Linked DNA regions of Homo sapiens. The protein of the gene in region 1 purifies or fractionates together with the protein of each later gene. This does not show direct contact. Each region holds a gene or a part of one and is shown on either strand. Other genes may lie near its edges.

Region 1 (4,051 bases):
ATTTACTTATGTCTATTTTGTACTGTCCTCCCCACACAACTAGAGTATCAGCCCCCTGAGGACAAGAACCTTTGTTTTGTTCACCATTGCAAGCTAATCCCCTTTAACAGTGGCTGACATAGGGTATGTATACATAGTGTTTGTGGAATGAATGAAGCCCTGGTGCCTAGAACAGGGTGTGGGATATAAAACATGCTAATGCATATTTAGTGAGTGGATGTAATGGTAATTCCTGAGGATTTGACTTAGTCCGGGGGAGCTTCCCTGTGGAGAGGGGCTTGGAAGTGGACCTTAAAGGCTGAATCAGACTTAGAAAAAGAGTGAGGAGAGAGAGAGAGAAACAGAGAGAGAGAGAGAAAAAAAAAAAAGAAAAGAAAAGACATATCAGGCCTGATACTGACTCGGGCAGAGCACTGGAAATTGGACTTTTCTACGAGGGTGATGGGAGCCGGGGCAGGCTCCTGACCAGGGGCAACCCCAGCCTCCACTTCTATCAGTCAGCGGCATCCTTGGGAGGGAGAATTTGGAAGCCCCCACCCCACTCCCACACCCCTTCCTATTCAGCTTACGTGAGGGTTCGCTCTACTCGGCTGCCCTGGCCTCCAATCACCTCTCCCAGGGCCAGGAACGCTTGTCCCAGGAAATCCTATGCAGGACAAGGAGTCAGCAAGACCAGAAGCTCTTGAGTGCTGAGTCCCAGCCTAGCCCCAGTGATGCTCCTGCACAGGACCAGGGCAGTTCCCAGGCGAATGAGTGGTGCAAGAGCCACGGCCCTACATGGGCTTTAATGGAGGGGGTGTGAAAGAAGGGGTCTGCGAGCAATCTCTGCCTTGTAGTGGGTCATCAGTCCAAGCCTGTTCTCCACAATACCACCCCCACCCCCAACCTCTGCCCAGCCCCATTCAGCCTCACCTTCTGCAGGTCCCAGCAGTGGCAGCCAAGAAGGAAGAGGAACAGTGAGTAGGGGGCACAGGCAGGACACTCAGGCAGGAGGAGAGGGACCAGGAGGGTGGGTTGGGGGCCTGAAGAAGATGGGGTCTGGGTCGAGGGTTGGGAGGAGTTCTGAGAGTCGTTGAACACATCTAAGTGCCTCCTGTGCGCTCCGCCAACCCTCGAGGAAACGTTTGCTCACCGGTTTGGAGATGTTGGTTTTGGAGTCCACGTTGTACCTGGGAAAAGAGTGGAACCGGTGTGGGGTGGGGCTGGGTGGGGGAGAGGGTGGAAAGGGGTCGGGCACCGAGTCTTGGTGAAAATTTTGGGTGGAGGGATGGGCGGCCGTGGACCCGAATTCAGCTTTGGTCTCCTTTTGGGGAGGAGTCAGGGTGGGCTGAGTAGTCAGACGGTCAAGCCTGGGCCGAGGCCAAGTCAGGGGCTGCTGGGGGCAGGGTTGTGTGGAAGGGGTCGGGCCTGAGGTGGAGCTGCGATAGGAGCAGAGTTGTGGGCGGGGCCAGAGCGGGGGACGGAACTGGACCGCATCTCATAAAAGGGCAGGGCTCAGGCTAGAGGGGGCCATTCAGAATGGGAGGGAGGCCTGCGAGAAGAACCAGGCCGGAGGCGAGGCGGGGGTGGGGCCAGCCAGAATTCCGGGCGGATCCAGGTCGGGGGCGGGCCAAGCCAGAATTCCAGGCGGGGCCTCACACATCGAAGCGCAGATTTTGCTTTTCCTCAAAGAAATAGTCGAGGACGAATTTGCGCACGAAGTCTGGGTTCAGCGTGTTATCAATCACCTCGGTCCGTCCGAACTGGGTAGGGGGGTGGAGGGTCAGCGTGGGACGTGCAGACGGGCAGGGGAATTCCCGGGCGACGCCCTGGGCCGGGAGGGGGCTCTGGGACTCACCTCCCGCCACTCCTGGCTGGCCCGGCTCTGCGTGTAAAGCACCACCACTGCAGGTGGGGGCGGGGAGGGAAGGACGTCAGGTCGGCTCCCACCCCTGGCCCCGACTCCACCCGCCCCTGAGTCGCGCCCAGACCCCAAGTTCCCCCTCCCGGTCCTGGAGCCGCCTACTGGGGTCGGACTTGGAGAAGGTATCAAGGTCTAGCAGGTTCCTAGAGAAAAGCAACAGACAGACAGAGTGGATCATCCTGGAGTCCGCCCGCCTCGAGTCGGCTCTGAGCCGGGCACTGAGGAGAGGCATGGGGCCCGCATCGAACCTCTGTCCCCCATGGCTACCCCCAGCCGGGGTCCGCTCTGTCAGCACTCTGGACAGCACCGGAAATCGCTGTCCAGGAACCATGGCTCTGCGGACTGGACGCGAACGCACCCACACTGTCTCCAAGGGCCCAGGAAAGAGGGCTCGCCCCAGAACTTTGTCCTCCTGGGGCCGAGCTCCTACCGGATATCTGCGACCCACCCCCTGAACCCGCAGGCTGAGCCCTTTTTTCGGGGTGGGGCTGCCCAAGACCCCCCGCTTCTCGATCCCACCAGCTACTCGCCCTGTCATCAGCTGTGATTTTCCAGCCAATTTCGCCTCTCCCCGGGGGTCTAGCCCCTGCCCAGGCTGAGCCCCGCGGCTGGCTGGGGCTGGGGCAGTGCCAGTGCCTAAGCCCTCCCCAGCGCGGCCCGCTCACCGGCAGGACACGGTAATTTCAATCTTGGTGGCCGGGACGCTGCGCTCGGAGGCTCCGCCGAGAGACATGGCTGGTCGGGCGACCAGAGCCGCAGGAGGCTGCGAGACCAGGGCTGCTGGGGCTAGGGGCGACGGCAGCGGCGGGGCCGGCCCATGTGCCGCGGTGTCGGCGGCGGCGGCGGCTGCACTCGCTCCAGCCCTGCGTGCGCTCCAGCCGCTCGCGCCCTGACAGTGGCCGCCGGCGGCAGCGGCTCCAGATGGCAGCACAGCCCCGCCCGGCCCTGCGGGCGGCCCCCGCCCCATTGGAGCAGCCTGGAGCCAGCGGGGAACCTCACCCCGACTCCCAACTCCAACCCACACCTTGGTAGAGTCTGCCCTGCGCAAGTCTCTGGGGTGGAAACCCAAGCCCCCTAGAGTTGTCCATGATGCTGAAACATTTGGGGCACCTGGTGGGCACTGGAATTGTTGCCTCTTACTGAGCCACTCCCTTAGTGTTTCTGTCTTTTCCCACTCCCAGCCTGCCTAGGTCTCTGAATAGGAAAAGTACATCTCTTAGTAGCTGTGTGACCTTGGACAAGTTACTCAACATCTCTGTGGCTCAACCGTGAAAGGCCGTCAGAAAGGCCTTTAACAGCAGCTACTTTAGGTGCTGTAAAATTTTACTGAGATAACCCAAGGAAAACACTTAGCACACAGCAAGTGCTCAGTAAACATTCACTGGTATTTATGATTTGTCCTCTGGGTATTCACAATGATGACAGTAAATGGTGGCTGTTGAGCACCGTGCAAAGCTGTCTGCCCATGCCTTTAACCCTCACGACTTTCATGGCGTTACAGATGCGGACACACTCTCATGACGCAATCTACTGTAGGTTACACTGTAGAAGAGGGTGGTGGTCAGCCAGGCTCTCACCCACCACACATGCACACCAATTGCTATCTCCAAAGCTTCAGAAGCCAGTCCTTCCTCCATAGGCAGGGCTCAAGGTAGGGGATGCAGGTCACCCGTACCAGGACCCTGCTGCCTACAGAACTTGTTAAAGATGAAGATCCTGGTCAGGTACGGTGGCTCATGCCTGTAATCCCAGCACTTTAGGAGGCCAAGGCAGGCAGATCACTTGAGCTCAGGAGTTTGAGACTGGCCTGGCCAACATGGTGAAACCCCATCTCTACTAAATACAAAAATTAGCTGGGGATGGTGGCACGTTCACGTAGCTACTCAGGAGACTGAGGCAGGAGGATCGCTTGAACCCAGGAGGCAGGGGTTGCAGTGAGCCAAGATTGTGCCATTGCACTCCAGCTTGGGTAACAGTGAGACTCCATCTCAAAAAATCTGAAAAAAATGAAGATCCTCCAGCTCCTAATTCCCAGGCAACTTCCTTAGCAACCCTAAGGCTAAAGCTCAGGCAGCCCTGGGAATGTGCACAGCTCATCAGGCTCTCTAGGTGACTAGGACCTGCTTAGGCCCGAGAACCACTACTCTC
Region 2 (3,500 bases), on another chromosome or scaffold:
CTCAGAATCTGAGCCCTGCCTTCCTCTGCCCAGCCTCTCCTCCTACCACTCAGGACCTCATACTCTCCACTCATCCTACTGGATTACTTTTGGTCCACTATATATTCCTGTCTCCAATGCCTCCATGCCTCTGTGAGAATGGTTTCCTCTGCCCATTCACTATTCCCTCCATTTACCTGGAAAATTCCTACTCATCCTTTAGAATCAATTAAAGGGCAGCTCCTCTTCACAGCCTTTCCTGACTCTTCCACAAAGACTTAGTACTCCTTGGCCGGGCACGGTGGCTCACATCTGTAATCCCAGCACTTTGAGGCTCAGGGGGATCACCTGAGGTCAGGAGTTCAAGACCAGCCTAGACAACATGGTGAAACCCCGTCTCTAATAAAAATACAAAAATTAGCCAGGCGTGGTGGCAGGTACCTGTAGTCCCAGCTACGCGGGAGGCTGAGGCAGAAGAACTGCTTGAACCCAGGAGGCAGAGGTTGCAGTGAGCCGAGATCATACCACTGCACTCCAGCCTGGATGACAGACAGAAACTCTGTCTCAAAAATAATAATAATAATTTTAAAATACTTAATACTCCTCCTATGTCCCCTGAACTTTTTTTTTTAATTGTTTTTCTTTAGAGATAGAGTCTCACTCTCGCCATCTCAGCTCACTGCAACCTCCACCTCCGGGGTTCAGGTGATTCTCATGCCTCAGCCTCCTGAGTAGTTGGGATTACAGCAGTGCACCACCACGCCCAACTAATTTTTTGCATTTTTAGTAGAGATGGGGTTTCACTATGTTAGCCAGGCTGGTCTCGAACTCCTGGCCTCAAGTGATTGGCCCACCTTGGCCTCCCAAAGTGCTGGGATTATAGGCATGAGTCTTCTTTTTCAAAGAAATCTCATGATAAATCAACTACAACCTGGGACCCTTAAAAAAATTATTACTGCAACTACTAATATTAGCTAACATTTATGTAATGCTCACTATTCACGATGATTTCCTTGAATTCTCATTTAATCTTCACTACTACACCATGGGAGAGATTCCATTATTATCCCCATTTTAAGACAAGGAAAAGAGTCAGTAGGCAAATCCAGGCCTGCCAGGTTCCAGATCCTATAGATTAGGCCAGACTGCCCCCTTTTAAAATATCAACATTAAGAATGTATTCTTAAAGAGCACATTCCTCTACATTTGTTACAATTTTAAATGTCTTATTTATCTATACAAAATTTCTCTGAGGTAGGATGAGGAAGGTATCATTATTCCCATTTTACAGAGAAAGGATGTGATAAACAGAGGTGAAGCAGCAAGGAAACCACTGATGAAACTGACTCCTTGGGGCCGTGTATCTGGGTTAGTCTTCTGATTATTGTTCAACTTGTTTAACTAGTTATGATCTCTTTCTATTTGTAAAGAATTCCAGCAGGAGGAGTCACTATGAATCTAATAGCATCCAACTGGTGGATTCGAGGATGATGCTTGGGTGTACAGATGTGTTAATAAATGTCTGACATCTTACGCTTTGCCATGGGTGGGTTTGCCATGGGTGGGTTAATTGCCATGGGTGGGGTGTGAGTTGTCAAGGCATGGTAAAATTCACTGAGTCCACATAAAAGGATGAGGGGAAAGAGGAGTCTTAAGAATCTGGGTCTTCAAAAACAGACTCAACACTTGTCAAAATTGACCTATATGTGGTTCCTGAAATTCTACAATTATTAAGTGATCTTTGAGTGGTTCATCTTATTAGAGCAGGCCAGATGTGTACCTGACATCAAAGCTTCAAAAGGCTACCAATGATCTCCTAGTCAACAAATGGAATGTTTTTTTTTTGAACCTGGCATTCATTGCTGCCTCTGTAGCACTTGATAATGCTAATCAACTCTCTCCCTTTCTTGATACGCAACCTCTTAGTTTGCCTATCTCTCTGACCATGCCTTCCTTTAGGTGGTAAGACCCGCAACTAGAGAGGTAGCAGCAAGGATGGGAAGGAAAGAACAGATACGAAAGATATTTCAAAGGAAGGCACAGCTGCATCTGGAGAGCAAATCCTTCTTCTTTATGTCACTCTTACAACATTTCCAAATACTGTTTCCCATGGAGGTTATTTGTGTATATGCCATCTTTCCTCCTTGGGGCAGGGATCAGATTTTAAGTTTCCAAAAGAGCTTTGCAACAGTGGCAGGCCTTAGAAGATACTTAATAGATATGTATAAAATAGTTTAAGAATGATTTTGAGATTTCTTCAATCTTCAACTCAAACTACAAAAGAATTATTACCTGGCTTTACAAAGCCTACATTCAGCAAAGAAAAGTGTTTCTTTAATGATGCATCCAGGCCCACCTGGGCTTCCTGCAAAGATGACAGAGACAAGTGCTGGTATGGGCTGAATTCATAATCGTTAACAACCCCAGCTGTCATTTCAGCAAAGATAATCCCATAATGAAGATGAAGGTAAGCAGGTCTTGTATTGAAGTTGCTAACTAGGAGTGACCAGGGGAAGAAACCATAATATACTCTGGGATTGTTGTGAGGGCTGCCTTCCTCTAAAATAGTAGGTTCTGTTACAAGGAATAAGCAGCTTGGAGAACAATAACCAGTCCCTTTCAGAATGGTTACAAGCCTATGTGTCTGACAGGATCCAGTGGGGAGAGAGGACGACCTCTGTTATCCCAGCTATCCAGACTAAATAGTCAGTAGGGTCTGGGGCAAGGAGCCTGACAAGAGAGGAATTCTGGGCATCTTTTCTCTGCTGACACCAAGAAGAATCACGGAGGTCCTCTGCTAAGCAGAAAATAAGTCGCAATGGGATCTGTAAACAGGGCCTGGAAGGGAAGACCTCCAGCTGCCCAGGAATAAGCTTAATTCTAGACCTAACTATGGCTTGCCCTATTACCTTAGACAAGAAGTTCCTTTGCTTTGTGCTTCATTTCCTCTTATGCAAATAGAGAGTACTGGAGGTAAAAAGGAAGCATCTGTAAAACTGCTTGGAAAGTCAAGCATATTATGGCCACTAAGGTCAGAATTAACATTCACTTTGTACTTTTATGTACTCCAAACAGTTCTGCAGACACTAAAGAATCACTGTAACTGAGACACATAAGCAGAAAAGTTCAAAAAGCGGGGAAAATGTGCTCTAAATAATTTCTTTTTTTTTTTGAGACAGAGTTTCACTCTTGTCGCCTAGGCTGGAGCACAATGGCACGATCTTGGCTCACTGCAACCTCCGCCTCCCAGGTTCAAGCAATTCTTCTGCCTCAGCCTCCCAAGTAGCTGGGATTACAGGCGCCTGCCACCACTAATTAGCGCCCGGCTAATTTTTTGTATTTTTAGTAGAGATGGGGTTTCACCATGTTGGCCAGGCTGGTCTCGAACTCCTGACCTCAGGTGATCCACCCGTCTTGGCCTCCCAAAGTGCTGGGATTACAGGCGGCAGGGCCACCGCACCCGGCCCAATAATTTTTAAAAATAAAGTGAAAGGAAAACTATGCTCACCTGATCCCTGCCC
Region 3 (3,500 bases), on another chromosome or scaffold:
AGACTTCATCTGTTGTTCAATGCCCAAAACACAGCACACACAGCAGATCTCGGTAGCATTTGCTGAATGAATGACTCAAAAAATACACACTTCTTGATTAAGAAGATTTCAAAGATTAAGACTGAGTTTCTGATTATCTGAAACAAAATCATTGTGAGAAAATTCAATTAATTCTATGTTTAAAATGCACATAAAAAGACTAACTTTGCAATGTAATATGCATTAAGCAGTTACCTGATCTTTGAGAAATTTTCGGATGTTTCGATGGGCTCGGGAACATTCGGTTAATAAGCTGAGAACTGGAGTTAGACCCTCTCTATAGCTGCTTCCCTATAAAAAAAAAAACCATATGTTTTTGAAATACGTTAGTTTTGTTTCTAACAGTATTACTTTCCTTCATGTAACTGAGGATATCAATTTGTTTTTGAGGTGGGGACTTTTTTTTTTTTTTTTTTTTTGGGAGAGGGAGTCTCCCTCTGTTGCCCAGGCTGGAGTGCAGCGGCGCAATCTCGGCTCACTGCAAGCTCCACCTCCCGGGTTCACGCCATTCTCCTGCCTCAGCCTCCTGAGTAGCTGGGACTACAGGTGCCCACCACCACACCTGGCTAATTTTTTGTACTTTTAGTAGAGATGGGGTTTCACCATGTTAGCCAGGATGGTCTCGATCTCCTGACCTCGTGATCCACGAGGTGGGGACATCTTATGTTACCTAAGCTTACAAACTATTTTAAAAATTCTTTTCCTAAAAACATTTCCATTTTATCATCTTCATGTTTACTATTGCCTTTTTTGGTCCTTCCTGGATGTTCCTACATTTTCTAGGATTCCCATGGGCTTAGCCAAAGGGCTTGAATGAAGCAAAATTTTGGTGACTGGACTATGCTACCTTGCTGCCTTTTAATACAGATACCTGACAAAGTGAGTGATAGACCAGAGAATGTATAAACAGCTCACAACAAATGGGAAATTGACAAGGTCTTCTTTTTTCTTTTTTTTGGGAAGATGTCTTTTAGGTATTATGAAGAGTATTTAGCAAGTTTTTGGGGGGATATTTTTTATTTCTAGGACTCACAAAGTAACAAAATGGAACAGTAATTACTTTTTCCTTTGTTTTCAAGCACTAGTCATAATTTTGGTGTTGCATGAACATAATTTTCAGCATTAAACAAATAAATTAACATGGCTTCAGCAATTTATCATATATTGTAATAAACTGCTTTCCAAAGTAAAAACAATTATGCAGCACATCAGTCAGAAAAAAAGCTTAGATTTAAAAATCATGCTCTGTGATGTGTGTCTGTATGTATGGCACATTTACATTCTTTGGAAGCATCTTCCCAGGGCTTCCATTTTATCAGCCTTACCTTGTCTATTCTCTTCTCCATAAAATTCAGTAAAACATGAATGGCCTCCATATTCATACCATTGTATACCATGGTATTGTTTTTCAAAACTGTTTCTTTCTCAGCTGTTTTATTACTGGGCAGTTCATCTAGAGTCGTTGCCTCTTGGGCTGTTTCTTCATGGGTTAACGGACAAATGAGAACATCCAAACAAGAGACTGGAACATTGCTTAAAAGGTTGACTGCATTGCTGAAAAGCAATTAAAAAAATACAATATTTTAACTTGATTGAATAGTCCTTTAAAATGCAAACATAATAAGAAGTTCAAAAGTGACTTTTAAGAGTCAATTAAAATATTTCTTTTCCAAAAATGAGCCATTATGGACACTTGACACTTACTATGAGATAGGAAATAAAAAACTGTTTCAAATATATGTTGTACAAATTAGAAAAAAAACAAATGTTGAATAGACAGACACAATCACATGATGTCATGTCACTTTCTGAAATGCTAAAATAGGAATTAGTGAGCTTTAATGCCAGCTCCTTAATTTTATTATGGCAACAATGCTAGCTTTGCATTTCTTCCCTGGGATTTTAAATCCTTTTGTGGATCCACTGGTGTTTTATTATTCCTTAGATTACAACATAAAGCATTTGAGAAACACTGAAAATAAGCAGCTTATCAGTAGCAACAACAATAAACCAAATATGGTAGAATTAAGTTTTATTCTTTCTAAATGTAGAAAATACAATTTAAAAATCATCCCAATTTTTGTAAGACATATGCAGAAAAAGGGAAATGGAGTTTTTTCTCTCTTTCTTATCATCAGGTCTCTAAATGAAGTTAATATAGCTATTTCTAATCTCTAGCCCCTAGGCCTTTCAGCTGTGTATTAATGAATACACGAGACTGGGATGCACACCAGTAGGGGGAACCCAAACCTTATATTTTTGGCATTCCCTAAAAACCTTGTTCTGTTGTTCAGTGTACAAAAGATTAAAATGACACTAACAATTTCAAAATTAGATATGTTCTCAACAAACATATTTTCTTCCATGAGTTATTTCATATTCTTTCATCTAAAAGGAGTGGTGGTGTTCTGGGCTAACTGGCTCTTATATGCCTGTGCCTTAGAACTTCCTGATCAACAATGGAAAGACAGGCATTTTATTTCCTAGTGACAGAGAAGCAGATCTAAAAATAACCACATCCTGACTAAAAATAAACTCCTGCAAATGCAATTTAAAAGTCCAACCACTTGGAAACCAAATTTAGAGCTTAATCTATCTGATACTATCTTAATTTAGACCAGTAGCTCCTTCTACTTTAGATTATAGTGACACCCTAAAAAATAAAGCAAAACAAACAGAAAAACAAAGAAATAGAAATACAAAAATTTTTCTTTCCTCTACCCTGAATTGTGCTCCACTTCCCCAAGAATGAATATTTCCTTTCTTTTTATATTATGGAAAAATAAAAACCAGTAACAAGTCAGTTGAAAAGTTAGACAATGCAGAACAGAAAGTGGTAATGTATAGGGCATCAAAAAAATGAATCAAGAGCAAAAAATAATTTAACAAGTCATATGAATAAATGGTTCCTAGTAAAATACAAGTTATTTGATTGCCCTCACTAAAACCAAATACTGCTGCTGCTACTGGTGTTATGCACAAAATCTCTATATTTGGTTATTGGTAAATAATCAAAGGTGGCTGAAATATAAGCTTTCCCCAAAACTTTCTCTTAAAACTTTTTTTTGCAAATATCTGTAGTTTATCTTATCTATAGTTCAGAACGTTTTGCTTCTATCTTAAGCACTTAGAAATTGTTACTAAATAATACCATAGATTCATTGAGAATAAAAGGGGGGAAATAACTCTACCTTAGAATTATTTTCAAAAACTGTATACAAGCCATTCTGAAATGTTATGATTTTTTCCCTAAACATCAGGCAATAGGCTCTTAAATACACTGACCGTATGATGCTCTGAACCTACCAGAGACCAGATTGAAAAGTTTCAGATGGGTCATTTCATTACAAAGGAATGTTTCCCCTTTAAATTCGTTTAAAGTAAGCAGTTTCCAGGAATTCAGTAAATTTAAGAAACCAAATGTAGAGTTTGATTCAACAAATATTTGGAGGTTTTAGGCT

Evidence for each region. Proteins that work in one complex are often made in the same cells at the same time.
Region 2: the proteins of CPNE9 (region 1) and GTPBP1 purify together in Homo sapiens (affinity purification with mass spectrometry; one large-scale study listed by BioGRID and IntAct). This does not show direct contact.
Region 3: the proteins of CPNE9 (region 1) and RIC8B purify together in Homo sapiens (affinity purification with mass spectrometry; one large-scale study listed by BioGRID and IntAct). This does not show direct contact.

The regions. Positions count from the first base shown.
Region 1 is NC_000003.12:9,702,582-9,706,632, reverse strand, and holds the start of CPNE9 (copine-9), read right to left. Parts: upstream 2,801-4,051; 5' UTR 2,637-2,800; coding exon 2,569-2,636; intron 2,461-2,568; exon of another isoform or gene 2,442-2,460; coding exon of another isoform or gene 2,047-2,441; coding exon 2,006-2,046; intron 1,885-2,005; coding exon 1,838-1,884; intron 1,743-1,837; coding exon 1,639-1,742; intron 1,170-1,638; coding exon 1,133-1,169; intron 916-1,132; coding exon 913-915; intron 647-912; coding exon 570-646; intron 1-569. UniProt on the Homo sapiens protein: Probable calcium-dependent phospholipid-binding protein that may play a role in calcium-mediated intracellular processes. Plays a role in dendrite formation by melanocytes.
Region 2 is NC_000022.11:38,708,944-38,712,443, reverse strand, and holds part of GTPBP1 (GTP-binding protein 1), read right to left. Parts: coding exon 3,488-3,500; intron 2,345-3,487; coding exon of another isoform or gene 2,272-2,344; intron 1-2,271. UniProt on the Homo sapiens protein: Promotes degradation of target mRNA species. Plays a role in the regulation of circadian mRNA stability. Binds GTP and has GTPase activity.
Region 3 is NC_000012.12:106,840,682-106,844,181, reverse strand, and holds part of RIC8B (chaperone Ric-8B), read right to left. Parts: intron 1,594-3,500; coding exon 1,365-1,593; intron 331-1,364; coding exon 235-330; intron 1-234.